Homo sapiens: one gene and its partners. The protein of the gene in region 1 interacts with the protein of each later gene in a pairwise test. Each region holds a gene or a part of one and is shown in the gene's direction. Other genes may lie near its edges. The genes, in order: ACACA, FGF14 and AKR1B10.

What was found.
Region 2: the proteins of ACACA (region 1) and FGF14 interact in binary tests that used the Homo sapiens proteins (3 or more experiments, as listed by UniProt).
Region 3: the proteins of ACACA (region 1) and AKR1B10 interact in binary tests that used the Homo sapiens proteins (3 or more experiments, as listed by UniProt).

The regions. Positions count from the first base shown.
Region 1 is NC_000017.11:37,242,800-37,249,912, reverse strand, and holds part of ACACA (acetyl-CoA carboxylase 1), read left to right. Parts: intron 1-1,238; coding exon 1,239-1,320; intron 1,321-1,756; coding exon 1,757-1,902; intron 1,903-2,936; coding exon 2,937-3,087; intron 3,088-4,698; coding exon 4,699-4,833; intron 4,834-4,937; exon of another isoform or gene 4,938-5,112; intron 5,113-5,178; coding exon 5,179-5,325; intron 5,326-6,353; coding exon 6,354-6,542; intron 6,543-7,113. UniProt on the Homo sapiens protein: Cytosolic enzyme that catalyzes the carboxylation of acetyl-CoA to malonyl-CoA, the first and rate-limiting step of de novo fatty acid biosynthesis.
Region 2 is NC_000013.11:101,906,905-101,914,017, reverse strand, and holds part of FGF14 (fibroblast growth factor 14), read left to right. Parts: intron 1-7,113. UniProt on the Homo sapiens protein: Probably involved in nervous system development and function.
Region 3 is NC_000007.14:134,530,454-134,537,566, forward strand, and holds part of AKR1B10 (aldo-keto reductase family 1 member B10), read left to right. Parts: intron 1-189; coding exon 190-357; intron 358-1,454; coding exon 1,455-1,571; intron 1,572-2,550; coding exon 2,551-2,628; intron 2,629-5,163; coding exon of another isoform or gene 5,164-5,262; exon of another isoform or gene 5,263-6,186; intron 6,187-6,196; coding exon 6,197-6,319; intron 6,320-6,597; coding exon 6,598-6,704; intron 6,705-7,113. UniProt on the Homo sapiens protein: Catalyzes the NADPH-dependent reduction of a wide variety of carbonyl-containing compounds to their corresponding alcohols. Displays strong enzymatic activity toward all-trans-retinal, 9-cis-retinal, and 13-cis-retinal.

The DNA.
Region 1 (7,113 bases):
AACAGTATGGGGGAACCGCCCCCATGATTCAAGTATCTCCCACTGGGTCCGTCCCACACCACAAGAGAATTATGGGAGCTACAGTTCAAGATGAGATTTGAGTGGGAACACAGCCGAACCATATCAACATGCAATATTTGTTTCTTCCCACCTCCTGGTTTTTTAAAACTCAAATGGTAGCATGCTGTGAAGCTGTTATTTACCTTGCTTTTTTAACTCAACAGTATATTTTTTAAAGTGTTTTTTAGTTCACATCTTTTTAATGTCTGTATGTTTTGTTCCACATGTGAAAACATGCGCAACATCACTAATCATTAAGTAAATAAAATCAAAACCATGATGAGATACCACCTCACACCCATTAGGATGCCCACTGTCAAAAAACAGAAAATAGCAAGTATTGGCAAGTACGTAGAGAAATTGGGACACTTGTGCACTCTTGATGGGAATGTAAAATGATGCAGCCACTATTGAAAAATGGTATTGCAATTACTGAAAAAATTAAAAATAGAATTACCCTATGATCTGGTAATACCACTTCTGGGTATTCTGAAAGAATTGAAAGCAGGGTCTGAAAGATACTTGCACAGCCACATTCATAGGAGGATTATTCACAGTAGCTAAAAGATGGGAGCAACTCAGATGTTGGTTGATGGATGACTGGATAAACAAAATGTGGCATATACATACAATACAGTATTATTCAGCCTTAAAGAAGAAGGAAATTCTGACACATGCTAAAACATAGGTGGATCTTAAGGACATTAGGGCAAGTGAATTAAGCCTGTCACAAAAAGACAAATACTATATGGTTTTACTTATATGAAGTATGAAGAGTAGTCAGACTCATAGAACTAGAAAGTAGAATGACGGTTACCAGGAACTGGGGGGAGGGCGAAATTGGGAGTTGTTAATGGGTGTAGAGTTTCACTTTTGCCAGTTGAAAAAGTCCTGCAGATTGGTTGCAGAATAGTGTTAATATCCCCAACACTATAGAACTGTGCATTTTGTAATGGTTAAGATGGCAAATTTAATGTAATGTGTATTTTACCCTAATTTAAAAAAATCCATTGTAAGATTCATAATTGATGTGATCAATTCCTTACAAACGATCATTTAGGTATTTAGGTTGTTTCTAGTCTTTTGTTATTCTAGGAAATGCTACAATCAATAATGTTTTAGATTCTCTTATAACTGTTAGAACTTTGTAGTAAGTTCCTCTCTCATCGTTCTTTCAGGGGTCAAGTCCTTCCTGCTCATACACTTCTGAATACAGTAGATGTTGAACTTATCTATGAGGGAGTCAAGTATGTACTTAAGGTATGCAGAACCCCATTGGAGCTTGCACCTTACTTTTTTAGCTATCTTTCTTTAGGTTGAGAGGCAGGAGAAAAAGTTTGATTTAATGCAGGGATGGGGGTATTAGTGAAATTACCGTCATTATTTTTGTCAGTGTCCTGAAGCAGCGTTTGTTGTTCTATGAAAATCTTTTTTGTTGTTCTTCAACTTCACATACACTGCCAAGAGATAAAGGAGAGACAGAGAACAACCACAGTTGGGGAAAATCAACTAAGGTTGCCCTCTTTGCTTACAGCAGGACTGAGCCATGTCCACAGACACTGATGCAAATAGCATCAGTGCCATGAATTTTCTTCCTCCTGACAGATCTTTCTTATCTGTATTTTTGAAGCATTCAAATTTCATTTGGAGCTGTACCTGGAAGGGACACACTGATCCTCATTCTCATTCCCTACAGGTGACTCGACAGTCCCCCAACTCCTATGTGGTGATCATGAATGGCTCATGTGTAGAAGTAGATGTACATCGGCTGAGTGACGGTGGACTGCTCTTGTCCTATGATGGCAGCAGTTATACTACGTATATGAAAGAGGAAGTGGATAGGTAAGTGGCTGTTTGAGGTCCATTTGCTGGTCATCCTGTTAGCCTTTTCTCTTATTAGCTACTAGCTCTTGGGATTTTCCCAGGCTTTTCTTGGTACTCATTTGTAGTTAAAAAAAAAAAAAATAGTACATGCACTTAACAAAAATATCAAGAGTATTAAAGTGTTTATAATTAAAAACATGTCTCCCTACCACTCCAGTGTATGTGGACAATGAAAAATAAGTTCCCCTTTTTATAAGTAACCATTGTTAAAAGTTTCTTACATATTTGAGTAGAAATTTTATATGCATATACAAGTTACACTCATGTACATACTGTTTTTCTTTAAATACATTCACAAATGTGGCTGGGCGCGGTGGCTCACGCCTGTAATCCCAGCACTTTGGGAGGCCGAGGCAGGTGGATCACCTGAGGCTGGGAGTTCAAGACCGGTGTGGCCAATGTGGTGAAACCCTGTCTCTACTAAAAATACAAAATTAACCAGATGTGGTGGCTTATGCCTGTAGTCCCAGCTACTTGGGAGGCAGAGGCAGGAGAATCACGTGAACCTGGGAGGTGGAGGTTGCGGTGAGCCGAGATCACGCCATTGCACTCCAGTCTGGGCAACAAGAGCAAAACTCCGTATCAAAAAAAAAAGAAATTCACAAATGTTCAACACCAGTTATGGTGTTATGAGAATGAAATAAATTAACATGTTGAAAATGTGTAGAACATTGCCACAACATAGCTAGGCTTCAAGAAATGTTAGCTATTACGTCATCAATATCTTTGTGTGTGTTTTTTTAAATGGTGGTACCTGTTATTTTTAATAGTCATGTGGTATTCCATTATATGATTATACTATATTTAATCTGATCCTTATTGAAGGAAATTTATGTTAATTGACATTGTAAACAAATATGCAGTGAATATGTCTGTGTGTGTGTATAATAAAGTTTTCAGGATTTTTTTTCTTTGAAGGTTGACATTCTCTACCATTCTCCTTTACATCCTGAGGTGCTTTCTTAGCTTACATACTTCCACTTGTCTCCTAGATATCGCATCACAATTGGCAATAAAACCTGTGTGTTTGAGAAGGAAAATGACCCATCGGTGATGCGCTCACCTTCTGCTGGGAAGTTAATCCAGTACATTGTAGAAGATGGAGGTCATGTGTTTGCCGGCCAGTGCTATGCTGAGATTGAGGTCAGGGTGGTGAAAGGACTGTGGGATCATGGGAGGGGAAGGTAGGAAAAGGGTCGGCTGGGATGGACTAGGACTGAAAAGTTACAGAAAGGAGGCTGGGCACAGTGGCTTGTGCCTGTAATCCTACCACTTTGGGAGGCTGAGGCAGGAAGATCGCTTGAGCCCAGGAGTTCGAGACTAGCCTGGGCAAGATGGTGAGACCCCATCTCTATGAAAAATTAAAAAATTAGCGGCGTACAGTGGCACATGCCTGTAGACCCAGCCACTCTGGTGTCTAAGGCGGGAGGATCCCTTGAGCCCAGGAATTCAAGGCAGCAGTGAATGGAGATTGTACCACTGTACTGGAGTGGTACAATTTGTGGCCTGCGTCACAAATCAAGACCCTATTTCTAAAAAATTAAAAAAAAAGGTAACAGATTGGAAATAAGAATGAAAAAGAAACATCAGTTGGCTTAATTAGAAGTGCGAACCTTAAGATTTTTAAAACACATAGGCAAATGAGGAATCTCTAGTTCTAAAAATAGATACTAGGCAATAGCACTTGTTGAATGTTAGGTGTCCTAACTGCTGGCTATCCAGAGAAAATACATGGAGGTGGGGCACAAAACAGACAAGAAATGTCATGTGATTAATTTTAAGAGAGCTAAGCATAGAGTGCAGAGGGTCACCTAACCCAAATCAAGCTAAGCTTGTATGGGAAGATATTCTGAAAGAAGAGACATTTGATCTTAGTTTTGAAAGACAGATAGTGATAGAGCAGGTGAAGAAGGGCAGGGAAGAGTGCTTAAAGTTGAAGGAATAGCATGTACAAAGACAGAAGCAAGACAGCACAGTGTATTTAGGGAACTGCAAGTATGTGTTGGTGTGGCTTGAGAATAGACTAAGGTTTAATGGGGAGGGACAAGCAAAGGTGCTAAAGAAGTAATGTGAGATCTTGAATGTGAGGTTATGAAGGATCTTATAAACCATACTAGTAAGTTTTCACTATCCTGGAGGCAGCAGGTAATCTCTGAAAGATTTAAGTGGAAAAGTAGTATGATGAGATTTGGGGTCTAGGAAGATTGCTTTTCGTGACCTTGAGGGAGGTATGTAGCAAGTAGGGAGATCTCTTAGGGGGTCTTTGAAGTACTTTGGGCCAGAAATGAAGAAGGCGTAAACCGAAGAGTTGGCAAGAGAGGAAGATTTTTGAGAAAGGTTTAGAAGATATGTCTGGCTGGGTTGGTAATTGGTAGGTAAGGGAGAAAGAGGAGTGAAGAATGATCCTTAGGTTTTGGCCTGGTTGTCTTAGATTGGATTCACTGGTATGAGGATATTAAATTGTTCCTTACTTTCTAAGTACAAAACAAATATAATCACAAATTATGCCAAAATGGTTGTAAAAGTTAGAAAGGAGAAATGTCAATAACTGTTATTAATTCCTAAAGTGAGGTACTGAGAGATTTTCTAATTGCTTGCCTTGATAGTCCCTAGGAGATGATGGTAAATTCCCATTTTTTCTTGGTCAAATTAGGTGTGGTCCAACTTAGATGCTAAGGGAAAAATTTTAGTTCTTTTAAGCACTCATCTGTGTAAAGAGAGATAAATCTGAGTCTAGTTTATTTTTCACTATAGGTAATGAAGATGGTAATGACCTTAACAGCTGTGGAGTCTGGCTGTATCCATTACGTCAAGCGACCTGGAGCAGCTCTTGACCCTGGCTGTGTACTAGCCAAAATGCAACTGGACAACCCCAGCAAGGTTCAGCAGGTGAGTAGGAAGGTGCTCCGAATATTGCTCTCTAAGAGCTAAAGAACTTGGTGGTTTGGAGAGGCAAGTGATTTCAATGCTTGGTTTGCCAGTGTTTTCTTTAGCTTTGTCCCCTATTAATCTTATGCCTTGTATTTGTGCCTGTAGTATTATGGAACTAGAGTTTGCAAGAGTTACTGTAGTACTAAGATTCTGTAATTTCCTTATGATGTTTCCTCTATTGACTTCCCTCCTGGTAGCTGGGTATGATGTCTCGATTTTGAATGATAACTCTTAAGTGCAGTGGTGTGTTTGTACCTTAGATCAAAAGTAGTAGATGACTTGATCTCTTGTTGGGGTTGACAGGCTGAACTTCACACAGGTAGTCTGCCACGGATCCAGAGCACGGCACTCAGAGGCGAGAAACTCCATCGAGTGTTCCATTATGTCCTGGATAATCTGGTCAATGTAATGAATGGATACTGCCTTCCAGATCCTTTCTTTAGCAGCAAGGTATGTATCACGTCTCCTGGGGAAGGGATGTACAAATGGGATACCTATTCTCCAAAATAGTTCCAAGTCTCATAATGATTGTTTAAGAGGGAGGAAAAGAAAGCTGTTTGGCCTAGAACTCTTTCACCTTCAGTTGTGGGACTTGAGGTCTTTAAATCCATGTTTCTTATCCTTGTCATGGACTTCACATTTAATTGTGATTACTCCTTTTTTTTTTTCCTCGAGACGGAGTCTTGCTCTGTTGCCCAGGCTGGAGTGCAATGGCACAAACTCAGCTGACTGCAACCTCCACCTCCTGGGTTCAAGTGATTCTCCTGCCTCAACCTCCTGAGTAGTGGGGATTGTAGGCACGTGCCACCAGGCGCGGCTAATTTTTTTTTTTTTTTTTTAGTAGAGGTGGGGTTTCACCACGTTGGCCAGACTGGTCTTGAACTCCTGACTTTGTGATCTGCCCGCCTCGGCCTCCCAAAGTGCTGGGATTATAGGCGTGAGCCACTGTGCCCGCCCGTGATTAGTCCTTTTTAAACTGGAGAATAGGGGCAATGTTAGATGCTTACGTTGCAATTTCAAAGTACTCTATGATAGTTGGCTCACGCCTGTAATCTCACCACTTTGGGAAGCTGAGATGGAAAGATCGCTTGAGGCCAGGAGTTTGAGACCAGCCTGATCAACATAGCAAGACCCCATATCTATTGAAAATTATATAAATTTTTATTGAAAAGAAGTAGTATATGATAGTGAATTCAGATATAGTTGACTCTTGAACAATACAGGTTTGAACTGTGTGGGTCCACTTATATGTGGATTTTTTCAGCCAAACATGGATCAAAATTACAGTATTGATGAGATATGGAACCCACAACTATTTCTATACATGGGTTCCGTAGGGCTCAAGTATGTGCAGATTTTCATATATGAGTGGTGGTTCTGGAACCAATTTCCCACGTATACAGAATGACAACTATATATCTTTTTATTTGGGGGATTGTGTTAACTTGGGTCCTATTTTACCAATGCTTTCTTTCTAGGTAAAAGACTGGGTAGAGCGATTGATGAAAACCCTCAGAGATCCCTCCCTGCCTCTCCTAGAATTGCAAGATATTATGACCAGTGTGTCTGGCCGCATTCCCCCCAATGTGGAGAAGTCTATCAAGAAGGAAATGGCTCAGTATGCTAGCAACATCACATCAGTCCTCTGTCAGTTTCCCAGCCAGCAGGTATTTATAGGATAACACTATATTTTTTTCTGGCTACCAATGCCAGAGTTTATGTTGTAGGATTCCTTCCTATTTGGATCCTCCTTACTTTTTGGATGTTGTGCTTGTATACTTTTAAGCATTGTATTCCTCACAAAACTGCCTCAGGGTACAAACCCAACAGTGAAAGTACTGTATGTGAAGGATAAGTATCTGTAGTTATGAGAAAAGCACACTTGGATCATGTATACCTTATAGCTTTGTTCCTGGGGCTATTCCCTAATTAGAGGTATTTTCATGAATTGAAAATAGAGTGATATTAGTTGATTGATTGATTCATTCATTCACTCATTGATTTAGAGATGGAGTCTAGCTCTGTCACCAGGCTGGAGTGCAGTGGCTGATCTCGGCTCACTGCAACCCCTGCCTCCCGAGTTCAAGCAATTCTCCTGCCTCAGCCTCCTGAGTAGCTGGGATTACATTCACACGCTGCCATGCCAGCTAATTTTTGCATTTTTAGTAGTCACGGGTTTCACCATGTTGGCCAGGATGGTCTCGATCTCCTGACCTCGTGATCCGCCCACCTCGGCCT
Region 2 (7,113 bases), on another chromosome or scaffold:
ATCTTTACAATCTGTTAGGCTCTGTAGCAGGTATTATATATACATACAGCAGTGAATAGAAGAGTTGAAGTTCCTGCCATCATGGAGCTCACAAACATGGGGTAGAGAGTCATTGCCTATGGAAAGGAACAAATTAATAAGAAATAATAAAATTCAAAGTCCTATAAAGCATGAAGAGAGCTGGGATAAAGAATTATGGAGGAGAGAGGGGTGGGGAGAGGGATCTAATTAGATAAAGTAGTCAGGGTGGGCAACACTGGGATCCACAGGTTGAGAGATGACAGGTAAGAAGGATGCAGAGATTTTAAGAGCAGGTAGAAAAAGCAATGTGTGTGCAGAGACCTTGAGGTGGAAAAAATATTGTCCCATTGGGAGAAAAAAAAGAGGCATAGAAATTTTAAGCACATTGTCAAGTAGAATATAGTGTGATATGCTTGAAAACAGAATAAAGAATAGCTCCACATTTTGTGTTTTGGGGAAGGGTAATACACATTTTTGAAATGTAGGGTTTTAAAAAATCCTTTATTAAGTAGTAATTTATTTAATGTAAAGATTATTGAGTTGGAGCCCTACACCCACACTCTTTCCTATCTCCATCACCCCTACCCCTATAGAAGAGTGATGTTTATACCAGTTGACTTACTCTTGTGAAGGACAGAAATTTGCAAGATGGCTATTAATGGTGTGGTAGGCAGCATGACTGCAACCCACCTTTCCAGATTCAGCTCCATCTACCCTCCACCGACCTCCACAGATTTCAAACACAATACAATGCCACACACCCCGCAAATTAGTCATATGCTTTCAAATCCTTATCCTTTTGTTTGTGCTTTACTGTGTGTCTAGCATCTTCTCCTCACTTCTACATTCACCTGTTGAAATTATGAAATTATTCTCATTTTGAAAAGCTGAGAGAAAATGCCATCTCCTCTGAGAAGCCTTCATTTATTGGATACAATTAAAAATAATTCTCCTGTGGTATTTCATACGTCACTGTTGTTGTTTATATATACCTGATAATAATTAATTAAGTATACATATTCAGCTGATTGTAGGGAAGAAGCAAAGTCTGTGTTTTCTGCATCTTCATAGGCTCTCAAATCTTGAGAGTGTTTGCCATACACTGGGTTCTCCTCATTGCCCTTGGATTGGAGTGAAATAAGGAAGGTTAATAGGCCCAAGCTAAAAAAGAAAGTATCCTTGAACCAGAGTGATCTAACTAGATAATTTTAGACATAAAAATACTTTTCAAATTTTATACCTTTTTTACTTTCCCTAAATAAATATAATTATATCTTTTTTTAAGAGAATTAGAGGGATTACATATTTGTGGGTTATTTATAAGAATGCAAGAACATAAACAACCTCATTTTAAAGCTTAACTAATATATGAACAAAGATATTTACATATATTGATTTAGCCAAAGAAAGGGGAATTTACAAGGAAATCAACAGTTTGCAAATAGTTTTATTATTTGGAATCTTAACAAAAATGAAAACTAAAGTAGCCACTGACTACAATGGTGTATAATGAACATTGTATCCCCAAAAGTGTTATGTTTTTATTATGAATTTTTCAATCAAACAAGAACCATAATTGTTCACAGGATAATAACCTTTCTAAATCTTTGGCATGGCTGCTAATGCAGTTGTTTCTTGAGATTTACTTTTTTGGGGCTGTGATCATGAGAGCTATGGTATTATGTGCCATGTATGCTTAATCAGCAGGTGCCTGGGCTTCTTACTAACATTTTAACTAAAATAAATTACAGTATGTATAAGGAATGGAAAGTGAGGTACTTAAAATGTGTTTTCAAGTTAATGCATAATATAAAAAGCAGAAATGCATGTACACCTATAGAAATAAACTGCTTTGCTCCAGTGTGATAGTGAAATCCATCAGTTATTCTAAGAAAAGTGTCCTTCCTTCTTACAAGGTGCTATGTAAGGAAACAAGTGTCTACCGTCTCAGAAAATAATCCACAGCAAATAGTCATCAAAAAAAAAAAAAAACACTGTTTTTGTGCGCTACTGTTTTAGTGTCATTACCATGTGCTCATACAAAGACCACATGCTTGTTTGTTTTGGCTGTTTTGGCTAAACTAAAACAAGGGAACATTTTTCTTCAAAGCACTTTTTATTTTTTGGAAGATATTTTCTCTTTGGTGTTGGTTTTCTAAGGCCATACCCATTGGAGTCTTACTACATATTAATACCTGTTGCTAACTTTTTGATAATTATAATTTTATTATTTGTTAGTTGTATTAAGGTTAGATCAAATTATGGTCTTCTAAATTAAAATGTTGAGTTTTGTTTTGTTTTGTTTTTAACAAGGGACATACTATAAATGCAATTTCTAAGCAGGGAATCTTATGAGAATATTACCAGATTGGTCAATGAAATAATGTTAGAGACAAAAAAGGCATTCATTGTTTATGCATTTTCCTCCTGTGGCTTAATTGTTATGATTTCACAGTCCATATTTGCTATAGGTTTCTGAAAATGTTTAATACCTCAGTAGTTCAATAAGTAAAGTGTAAAATAGTGTAACAGATTAGGTATAATGTAATTAAACATAAAGAAGATGGTTTGCTTTGGGTTTAGTTATATCCATAGATTGAGTTGAGTTTACATATATTAATAATCTATGGCCAACTGTCTGGTGAAGAAATCCTGTGACCTTTCCTAACAAGATTTCAGATACACAAAACCTTCTGTCCCAAAGTTACCGTAATCAATTACGGGCTTCACTTCACATTTTGAATTTGAATACTTTTACATTTAGCCCCAAACTTGTGATTTTTGTTAGTAATTCCATTCTCTATGATGTTACTGTGAGAACAAGTATTTTCAAACCCAACAAGAACCTCCCTTCTCTTTGGTGTAAAGTTACGTCTTCTAAATTTTATTTATTTAAATTTTTTTAAATGGTAGAAATTTAAAAGGAAAGGTTTCTAAATATGATTTATCCACTTAGTTATGGAATTCTATATTTTTCTTAGATATAATTTATATTAATGTCTCCCCAAATGTTGAGAAACTTTAGCCAAAGAGGACTATGATATTTAGATAATACAAATGTTATATAATATTTCAAATATTGTTTTAGCACCCAACAACTAAAACACACACACACACACACACACACACACACACACACACACACACACACACACACACGAATCCAAATCTCTAAGAGACCATTTCAGAGACGTCAATGCAATTTAAAGCCAGTTACAGTGTTTGCATTAGAAAACAACTAATTTCATAGTTTTGGTCTATAATGGTCCAGCATTCAATTTAAGAAACTCAGATCACATGAAAATGTCACCATTTGCTGTTTACTGGGGTGACAGTATACCAGTAGGCATGCGTAGAAATGCAGACACAGTGTCTACACCATTTTATGATAGGTACTACTTTGTCATTCAGAAAAATGTCTCCTTTCATAAAATTAAATTTTGTAATTTATTTTGTGGAATGTATGTTTCTCCCTATGATTTTATGGTTTTTGATATTGGGATTGATAGGAACCCATACGGCATCACCATAGGGAAGGGCCACTTCAAAGTCATTGTCTCACCAGTGCCTGGCATACAGCTAACACTTCAGAAGTATTTGTTGAGTGAATGAAACATACCACATTTGTCAGGACATATATGCAGCAGAAGCATAGAATACAATTGAGATAAATGAACGCATAGCAATGGCTATAATTGGATAATTATTATTATTATTATTTTGGTCTGATTTACTTTTTATTTTATTTATTTTTTTATACTTTATGTTTTAGGGTACATGTGCACAAAGCGCAGGTTTGTTACATATGTATACATGTGCCGTGTTGGTGTGCTGCACCCAGTAACTCGTCATTTAACATTAGGTATATCTCCTAATGCTATCCCTCCCCCCTACCCCCACCCCACAACAGGCCCTCGTGTGTGATGTTCCCCTTCCTGTGTCCATGTGTTCTCCTTGTTCAATTCCCACCTATGAGTGAGAACGTGCGGTGTTTGGTTTTTTTGTCCTGGTGATAGTTTGCTGAGAATGATGGTTTCCAGCTTCATCCATGTCCCTACAAAGGACATTAACTCATCATTTTTTATGGCTGCATTGTATTCCATGGTGTATATGTGCCACATTTTCTTAACCCAGTCTATCATTGTTGGACATTTGGGTTGGTTCCAAGTCTTTGCTATTGTGAATAGTGCCGCAAGAAACATATGTGTGCGTGTGTCTTTACAGAAGCATGATTTATAGTCCTTTGGGTATATACCCAGTAATGGGATGGCTGGGTCAAATGGTATTTCTAGTTCTAGATCCCTGAGGAATCGCCACACTGACTTCCACAATGGTTGAACTAGTTTACAGTCCCACCAACAGTGTAAAAGTGTTCCTATTTCTCCACATCCTCTCTATCACCTGTTGTTTCCTGACTTTTTAATGATCGCCTTTCTAACTGGTGTGAGATGGTATCTCATTGTGGTTTTGATTTGCATTTCTCTGATGGCCAGTGATGATGAGCATTTTTTCACGTGTCTTTTGGCTGCATAAATGTCTTCTTTTGAGAAGTGTCTGTTCATATCCTTCACCCACTTTATGATGGGGTTGTTTGTTTTTTTCTTGCAAATTTGTCTGAGTTCATTGTAGATTCTGGATATTAGCCCTTTGTCAGATGAGTAGATTGCAAAAATTTTCTCCCATTCTGTAGGTTGCCTGTTCACTCTGATGGTGGTTTCTTTTGCTGTGCAGAAGCTCTTTAGTTTAATTAGATCCCATTTGTCAATTTTGGCTTTTGTTGCCATTGCTTTTGGTGTTTTAGACATGAAGTCCTCGCACATGCCTATGTCCTGAATGGTATTGCCTAGGTTTACTTCTAGGGTTTTTATGGTTTTAGGTCTAAAGTTTAAGTCTTTAATCCATCTTGAATTAATTTTTGTGTAAGGTGTAAGGAAGGGATCCAGTTTCAGCTTTCTACTTATGGCTAGCCAGTTTTCCCAGCACCCTTTATTAAACAGGGAATCCTTTCCCCATTTCTTGTTTTTGTCAGGTTTGTCAAAGATCAGATAGTTGTGGATATGTGGCATTATTTCTGAGGGCTCTGTTCTGTTCCATTCATCTATATCTCTGTTTTGGTACCAGTACCATGCTGTTTTGGTTACTGTAGCCTTGTAGTATAGTTTGAAGTCAGGTAGCATGATGCCTCCAGCTTTGTTCTTTTGTTTTAGGATTGACTTAGCAATGCGGGCTCTTTTTTGGTTCCACATGAACTTTAAAGTAGTTTTTTCCAATTCTGTGAAGAAAGTCATTGGTAGCTTGATGGGGATGGCATTGAATCTATAAATGACCTTGGGCAGTATGGCCATTTTCATGATATTGATTCTTCCTACCCATGAGCATGGAATGTTCTTCCATTTGTTTGTATCCTCTTTTATTTCATTGAGCAGTGGTTTGTAGTTCTCTTTGAAGAGGTCCAATAATTGGATAATTATTAATGTATTTAACAACTACCTGCATGACACTCTGTGTCTATTGAGTACTATTTAATCTTCACAACAAACCCATGTGGTAGGTACACTACATTATCCATTCATTAATACACTAAATTATCCAGTAATCGATAATACACTAATATTATCCATTCATTCATTTTACAGATGAGGAATCGGAAACAAAAATAAAAAGCTTGCATAGCTTTGAAGAGTGGGGCTGGGATTAGGAGAAGATCTGCTAACTGTTTAGCCCATCTGCCTGCCTACTATTTGCCTGCACTTACAAGGCTGAATTTGGCTGAAGAAAAATACGCAGACACATTGGTCCTACTTTAAATTCACAGTCAATAACCTCAGGGGGCCCCTTGGTACATTTCTTTTTTAAAATCCATTTTCACTTAACTGGATCATATTTCTTACCTTACTTCCCTTCAAACCTCTTATGTCTCCTCTCCCATTTCTACTCTCAGCTATATCCTTACTTCTATTTGTCTGAGAAAGTAGAAATAATAAGAAATAAATGTTCACATACTCCACAACTGCTTTTATAAGTCTATCTGCAGATCTATCCATTTACTCCTCTTTTTATTTTTTTACTGAACTTGGGGATAAACTCCTAGTGCTGTAATCTAAGTTCAAGACCTCATCAAATTTAGCATTAGACCATCTCTCCTACTCAGGGAAATCAATCCAATAATTTTCTTCTCTTCTGCATCATCCTACTGTGTTATCCCACATCCTCCTGTATTATCCTTAACAGTATTTAAATATGCTCTAATATTTAGAACATCTTAAATAATTACCCCATGTTAAAAAAGAATCCCCTCTTGGTTATGCATTTCTCTCTAGCTATTGAATTAATTGTCTGTTACTGGCAAAACTCTTTGAAAGAGAAATTGCAACTATCCTTCTCCCATTCTCTCTTGGACCCTTTCTAAACAGGTGTTTGTCCCCAGTAACAAACTGTTCTTGTCACGGTCACCCATGACCTGCAAGTGATCAAACTCAAGATTCTGTTTTCAGTTCTTATCCTACCCGTATAGTATTTGGCATTCAAATTTTCATAATAAATTTGTATTTTTTACTACAAAGTGGTAAAGTTAGCATCGAAATACTTTAAACCTACCATTTACCCAACCAGTACCCTTTATGCGATCATCTTTTTATAGTGACGATATATTTGGGTTTCTAATTGAGAGTATTAATACGTTAACTATTCCATGTGATTTGATGTTCAGCCAAACACTAATAGTACTCAGTTGGTATTCGGGTACCATTAGAAGGCAATGCTTGGTGTTTCCTTACTTGGGAAGAATATTCCTTTCATCACATGTATTTGTGTTTGGACAGAGTGGCTTGTCTCTATAAAACAGAAGAAGATGAATGGTCTTTCTGAGAATTAGTCTTTGTATTTAAATATAATAGATTTGTGATTAAGCAACGGCTGCTTTTCAGACTCCTTAATTACTATCATAGCAAATAATCATTGGCAAACTAAAATATTAGTTTGCTTAATGATAAATATCACTCAAGTTTAAGCATTATGTAGAAAGAAATAGTCATAAACTTTGGAAGGGCCGTTTATCATAGTTCATTTTCTCTATGTGGAACGTTTTCATGG
Region 3 (7,113 bases), on another chromosome or scaffold:
GGGGCAGCCTGTTGAAGGTGGCCTGGGGATAAGAGAATATGATGGTTGCTGAGAGTGGTGTAATTCCAGCTACTCGGGAGGTGGGAGGGTTGCTTGAACCTGGGAGTGTGAGGCCAGCCTGGGCAACACGGCAGGGCCCCATCTCTTAAAAAAAACACATATGTGATGAGCTTTTCTTTTGCCTTTCAGTCTCCTCTTGGCAAAGTGAAAGAAGCAGTGAAGGTGGCCATTGATGCAGGATATCGGCACATTGACTGTGCCTATGTCTATCAGAATGAACATGAAGTGGGGGAAGCCATCCAAGAGAAGATCCAAGAGAAGGCTGTGAAGCGGGAGGACCTGTTCATCGTCAGCAAGGTGCAATGGTGCATTTGGTGGGAGGCCTTCACTTCAAGGCAGGCAGAAGTATCTGGGTCGGGTTGGCAGCAAGAACTCTGTCAGCCTTTTCTACATGTACCCCTTTTCATCTCTGCCTTGATAACATCCGTGAATACAACACTATCCATACTCCAAGCCATTATTGATATTTGAACATGTCGTGGCTGCCCCACCTGCCTGTAGGTTGGTTTTCCCATAGTGGGCTTGGTTCCATGGAACCCTGCACTGCCCTGGGCCTCCCTGTTCCCCATCAGAGGGATCTACCATCTGCCCAGAGGCAATCAGAGGCCAAGGGTGCAGGCGGGTCTTGATCTGAAGCCTCCCTTTCAGCACTGTGATCTCAGTGACTGTGCCCCTGAGACTCTCAGCCAGGGGGAATTTTAGAAAATGGTAGGGGCATTTTTCTATTGTCACATATGAATTTCTTTATTCATTCTAGTAAAAGGTGAGGGATACAATGTTATAAAAAAGAAGAAGATGTTGGGTGTGAGAGGGCTGAGAATCACTGGATCTATATTATACATAACTTGCTGAAAAAAAATAACACTAGTTCTAGGTACTTGGAAAATGCATACATCTGGTAGGACAAATAGACCTCACTGTGTAGCAGCCAAGTCTGGATAAAGCCTTTGTAAAATTATCACTTGGGGCCTTATAGGCTTGATAAGGGACCTATCAGATAGGTCAGATAAAGGACCATCTGCTCCCAAAGGCCTAAGAATGCTTGACATTTAAAAGCTACACACAATTCCTGCTCTCAGAGAGCCTACAGCTGAGGAAGAGACTGAGACAGGTAAACAAATTTCAAATCTGTGGCCACATTTACTTCAATGATCTGAGACACGTATAGAGTACTAGGACAGTTGAAAAAGTCAATTGCTTTTAACACTTAAGACATGTCATTGAGGTGCTGAGCCCTGGTGATGTTCCACACTGTGTCGTGGATCTTAATCAGCTTTGTTACAAATGGCTTGTGGTGGGTTAGATGAGGATGCAAATCAAAAAGCAGGGACAATGAGTACAATGTGGCCCTTCCTTTTCCCAGTATTAATAGCTCATTGCTACACTCTTTGCAGTTGTGGCCCACTTTCTTTGAGAGACCCCTTGTGAGGAAAGCCTTTGAGAAGACCCTCAAGGACCTGAAGCTGAGCTATCTGGACGTCTATCTTATTCACTGGCCACAGGGATTCAAGGTTTAAGACACTCTCTTTCTCAGCCTCTAGTTTCTGAGCAGGTGCCAGAAAATAGTAGCTGCACCAGGGCTGTGGGGTGGTGTGGACTGGGGCAGGAGGCCTTGCATTTCATAATTGGGAATGGCAGGTGGTCAGGAAGAGACCTTGGAGAAGAAACACACTGGCCTGGAAGGGAGGTTGAGGCCATGTGTGCTGCTGAGGTGGCCACATGCCTGGGTTTTCTTGCAGTTATGTCTGAGAGAAGACATGATTTCTGGCAGCCCAGACAAGTTGCAACTGCCATATCACCTTTGTCTTGATTCCACGCCCCAGGGTTGCCCTCCCAGGAAATCTCTTGGGTTACTCTTGCATAACTATATTCCAGGGCATAATTATCTTATTAAGCAAAGTACACCTGGGAGTGGCATCTTGGAGAAAAGCCCAAGTATGGTGATGCTGGAAGGAAGCCAGTAGTGATCCAGGCACCCATTGCCTGGGGCTCTGCTCTTACCTGCTCCTGAGGGGTGGGAGAGACAAATTTCCAGCTCTCTCCCCTCCTGACCAACTGGAGTGATGATGGCCTGCCACCCCTAATTCCACGCCTCTTCTAGAGGCTGCAAGGATAGAAGTTGGCCAATATCTTCTCCAGAAAACCACAGCTTGGATATCTAATCCTTATCCAGTAATATTGAAATGAAAGTTTGCCCTTGGTTGTATATGGGATCTAGGTGTATGAGGTTAATGTCCATGGTGATAATGAACTTCTGGAATGTACTAGCAGCAAATCTTAAAGTCAAGCCAGTCGTTTCTAAAATATTAGTATGCTACAGTAGATACAGAGATTTTAATTAAACTCACATTCCTAAAGTATGTACTCCAGAACTTGAAAAAGTGGTATGCAGATGTGGTATTTAGCAAGAGTCAGGATCCTGAAACCTTGTTGAACAGAACCAAGTGTCCTGATGCAGATTCCAGTAAACTTTTCATTCTGTGTTCACAGTCTGGGGATGACCTTTTCCCCAAAGATGATAAAGGTAATGCCATCGGTGGAAAAGCAACGTTCTTGGATGCCTGGGAGGTAGGTTCCCAGCTTCCTCTAAGTGTGCTGGGAGAGAAATCTTCAGTTATCCATGAGATTCGCATGGATATGAATGAGGCCATGTGCCTGATGCTTTCTAATTTCATCATTGTGATTTTCTAGCTCTTCTAATATCTTCCTCATCACCTTTGGCTTTTGGGTACATCTGATACTATTTATATTTCAAGGCTAATAGTCTTCAAATAAGACTGGAAATACAATGTACCCCACTTTGGGGAATACACATGCTGTTCTCAAACCAGGGCGAGGCATTTGGAACAGGAGGTTTGGGCCTGGGTGTGCTCATAGCAGCTGAGTAACCTAGGGTCAGTTTTGTAACTCATGTAGGGCTCAGTTTTCTCTTCTTAAAAAGAAGTTGTATAATACATACTACCAATATATATCTTCCAGTGTGTGATAAAGATTAAGATGGTTTACATGCCAGGAACATTAGTCATAAAGCCCATTTAACCCTAGGAGACAGGGTTAACATCCCCATTTATAAATAATGACATTTGAAACCTAGATTGTTTGATGACTTGCCCAGGTCTTGTCACAATGTGTGTGGCAGAGCTGGGATTAGACCCAGACTCATCTGAATCACAAGTCCAACCACCAAAGCCATCAGCATGGTGCTTGGCAGGCAGTGAAGACACATCCAGAAATCAGGGAGCCTGAGTGCTCTGCTTCTCAGATCTAACCATGACCTGTTTCACGTCATTCACATTCAAAATGAATGAAGGGATGAACATTTTCTCTGGTCATTTTTTATTATTTATACCCTTTTGCAAATGCTAGTAGAGAATGAAGTGGAGGAATAAGTTATAAATGAACAGTGGCTTATGACTCCAAGAGTTAATCGTGTTATTTTGGTAGCTGTCTGTGTAGGTGTGCATGTAGTTGCGAGTTTGTATTGTGTTTTACAAGCAAAAATATATTATGTTTCAACTTTCTGAAATGCTTATAATTGACATGATTCAATGAAATGTAGCTTTTTCTGTGTATTGTTTGTTCAAAAGCATTAATCCACAAGCACAGCTTTTTGTTGTTTTTATTGTCTTAGACACTCTCACTCTGTCACCCAGGCTGGAGTGCAGTGGCACAATCTTGGCTCACTGCAACGTCCCTCTACCAAGTAAAAGCCATTCTCCTGCCTCAGCCTCCTGAGTCGCTGGGACTAGAGGTGCATGCCACCACGCCTGGCTAATTTTTGTATTTTTAGTAGAGATGGGGTTTCACCATGTTGGCCAGTCTGGTCTCGAAGTCCTGACCTCAAGGGATCCACCTGTCTTGGCCTCCCAAAGTGCTCAGATTACAGGTGTGAGCCACCACACCTGGCTATTTGCATTACATATGATAAGATTTTTTTATCTTAACTCTTATGATGCCATGAAGTATGGCAAGTATGTCAATGTAGCCTGCTTCTCGCAGTGCTGTTTTTTGAATGAATACAAGAACGACTGCTAAATAAAACATTTGAAAGGCATGAAAAGATAGCAGTGATCAAGATCAGAGGCTCTGATTTGAAATGAGCAGGCTTGAATATGTAAGCGTTGGATGTTTATGTAGACCCACAACCAGTTCAGTAGAAACCTCACTGACCACATTGAAGCAGAGAGGAGGAAAAATGTATAAAGAAGTCAAGTTCTAATACAGGAAAACTAACCTGACCTATGTGCACAAAAACTTTTAAATTATCTAATTGCCCCATCTGAAATTTTGGGAAACCTAATGATTTCACAGCTTCTAAATTCTACTGCCCAATTTGGATAACATCATATATCCTAGTGGTTCTCAACGTGGCTATGCATTAGAATCACCTGAGGAGTTTAAAAATCCCAACGTCTAGGCTACAACTCAGAGAAAATCTGTAAGAAACTCTGGGGGGTGAAATCCAGGCACTGGTAATTTTTTTTTTTAATTTAGAGAGAGTCTCTCTCTGTTGCCCAGGCTGGAGTACAATGGCATCATCATAGTTTAGTGCAGCCTCGGACTCCTGGGCTGAAGCAATCCTCCCAAGTAGCTGGAATCAAAGGCACATGCCGCCACATCCAGCTAATTAAAAAAATTTCTTTTTGTAGAGACAGGGTCTTGCTATGTTGCCCAGGATGGTCTCCAACACCTGGCCTCAAGCAATCCTCCTGTCTCAGCCTCTGGTAATATATATCAGAAACATATATATTATTAGTAGGTATTATAAGACTTTTTTTAAGAAGAGAAAGCTAAGGCCTACAAGAGTTAAAAAACTTACCCTAGGTTACTCAAACCTAGGCCCAAAACCCCTGTTCCAATCCTCCTGTCACCTCCCAAAGTGCTGAGATTACAGTCATGAGCCACTGCATCCAGCCAGTATTTTTTAAAGCTCCCTGGTGATTCCAAATTGCAGCCAAAGTTGAGAAGGGCTGGATAAAGTGTTCCCTGAACATGTCGTGCTTATCCCTGCCTCTGAGCTTTGCTCCTGCCTTCCTGTGTCATATGCTCATGTTTTTTCCCTCTTTTCTGTCTTTTTTTTTTTTTTTTTTTTTTTCTTTTGAGGCCCAGCTTATACTCTACCTGAAGGACTCCCCTGACAACTGCGGGCTGTATGTATCTCTTCTTTCTCTGCCCTTTCTGACTCTGTCTATGCCGCTGTGATGTTATCTGAGGCAGCCTCAGTGTCATGATTGATGGCTCCATAGAAGGGAACTCTAGCACTTTAATTGGACTATAAGAATCCCAGAAAAAGGGAGCACATTGTATACATTTACATCCTGACAACTTCTGGGCAGGATCTGGAACATGTAATAGATGGCTACTAAATACATATTGCACTGGAGGCTGCTGCTAACATGTATGGTATCTTTGGGCAAGTTTGGAAAATGCCCAATATAGGCTAAAAATTATACAAAGATTCCCTTCCTTGCGTGTCCATGCAGTTTCTGTACCAGGAAGCATGGCTGGATATGCAAACAGTGGGTCAGGCTTCAGTCCCACACAACTCCATGGCCGGGTGCCCCTATCAGGGTGTAATCTGAATGCATGACCTTCCTGCAAACCAAAGCATGCTTAGTGTGGGAGAGAGGGACTCAGGACCCACAAGTGAGGCTTCTCCGTATGCTGCAGCCTCTTCCTGACTAACACAGCTTGCCCAGGTTTGGGTGTGCAATGCACACACACAACAGCAGCTCCCTGCTATCATTTGGATTCATTAAAAATTAAATCATCTCATAAGCTTACAAATGTTGATTTTTATTTACTTTTTATTTTTTTGCATTACAAAACTTTCATATTTCCCCTGTGTACAGGAAGTTTAATTTTTTATGTGTTTCTTCACGTGTAAGGTGAGAGTGGCAAGAACATAAAATCTTTACCTGTTACTCCTAGTTTTTCTTGCGCTGGGGAGGGGCAGTAGGGCTGGAACCAGTCACTGATGGGCACCCAGGCCCTGGACTAAAATTTCCTGTGAATGCTTCGGCTAACCCTGTTACGGTGGATCCTTTAGCAATTTCTGCCCCAGGGAGGACTAAGGCAAGCCAGGGTCCCTGTAGTCCCTCTAGAGCTGCCCATAAGGTATTCCTTTCTATGATAGGCCATGGAGGAGCTGGTGGATGAGGGGCTGGTGAAAGCCCTTGGGGTCTCCAATTTCAGCCACTTCCAGATCGAGAAGCTCTTGAACAAACCTGGACTGAAATATAAACCAGTGACTAACCAGGTAAATTCTATTCAGTTTAAGGGTAAGGGTCCTGCCCTATTACTTCTTAAACATTGCGGGAGGAATGTTCAATGCTATGCCCTGAGTCTCATCTCAGGGGTCAGTGATCAGGACACTTTGGGGAGGTGTGAGGCTGATCTCACGGGTGATTTAGCAAGTATCTCAGTGGGCAGGTGTTTGGCCTTTGCTTGGTGGACTTTTTTTGTGTGTAGAACTCCCTAGGAACAATGCAAAACAGAGCCGGCTTTCCCCGTGATGAGGATTGTTTGCTGTTGCAGGTTGAGTGTCACCCATACCTCACACAGGAGAAACTGATCCAGTACTGCCACTCCAAGGGCATCACCGTTACGGCCTACAGCCCCCTGGGCTCTCCGGATAGACCTTGGTGAGGCTTCCAAGTGGTGGGTCTTTCTCTTGATAATCTTAAAAACATTATTTTATAATTGGTAAATGTTGGTATGGGTCCATAAGTTACTGGAAAGAAAAATGTGTGTAAGGTAACACGTTTGGTACACACAAATGGGATGGCAGTGGGAAAAAATGGGAATTAAACAACAACAACAACACCAAGGGCGACATGCTTGACCCTCTGGGAATATTTCCAGTTCAGCCACCCAAGGGTGAACCAGGCTTTGCAAAATGCTGAGGCTTCAGAGCCCGGGGAAAGGACCCAAGCTTCCAGGTCCTCCTGCCTGTCTCCCAGATGGAGAGGCTCTGATGATCAGTCTTGAGACCCTCATTGGAGTGGTGTCCTTCTGTACATGGTAGCCATGGTGATTATTCACATCAGCATC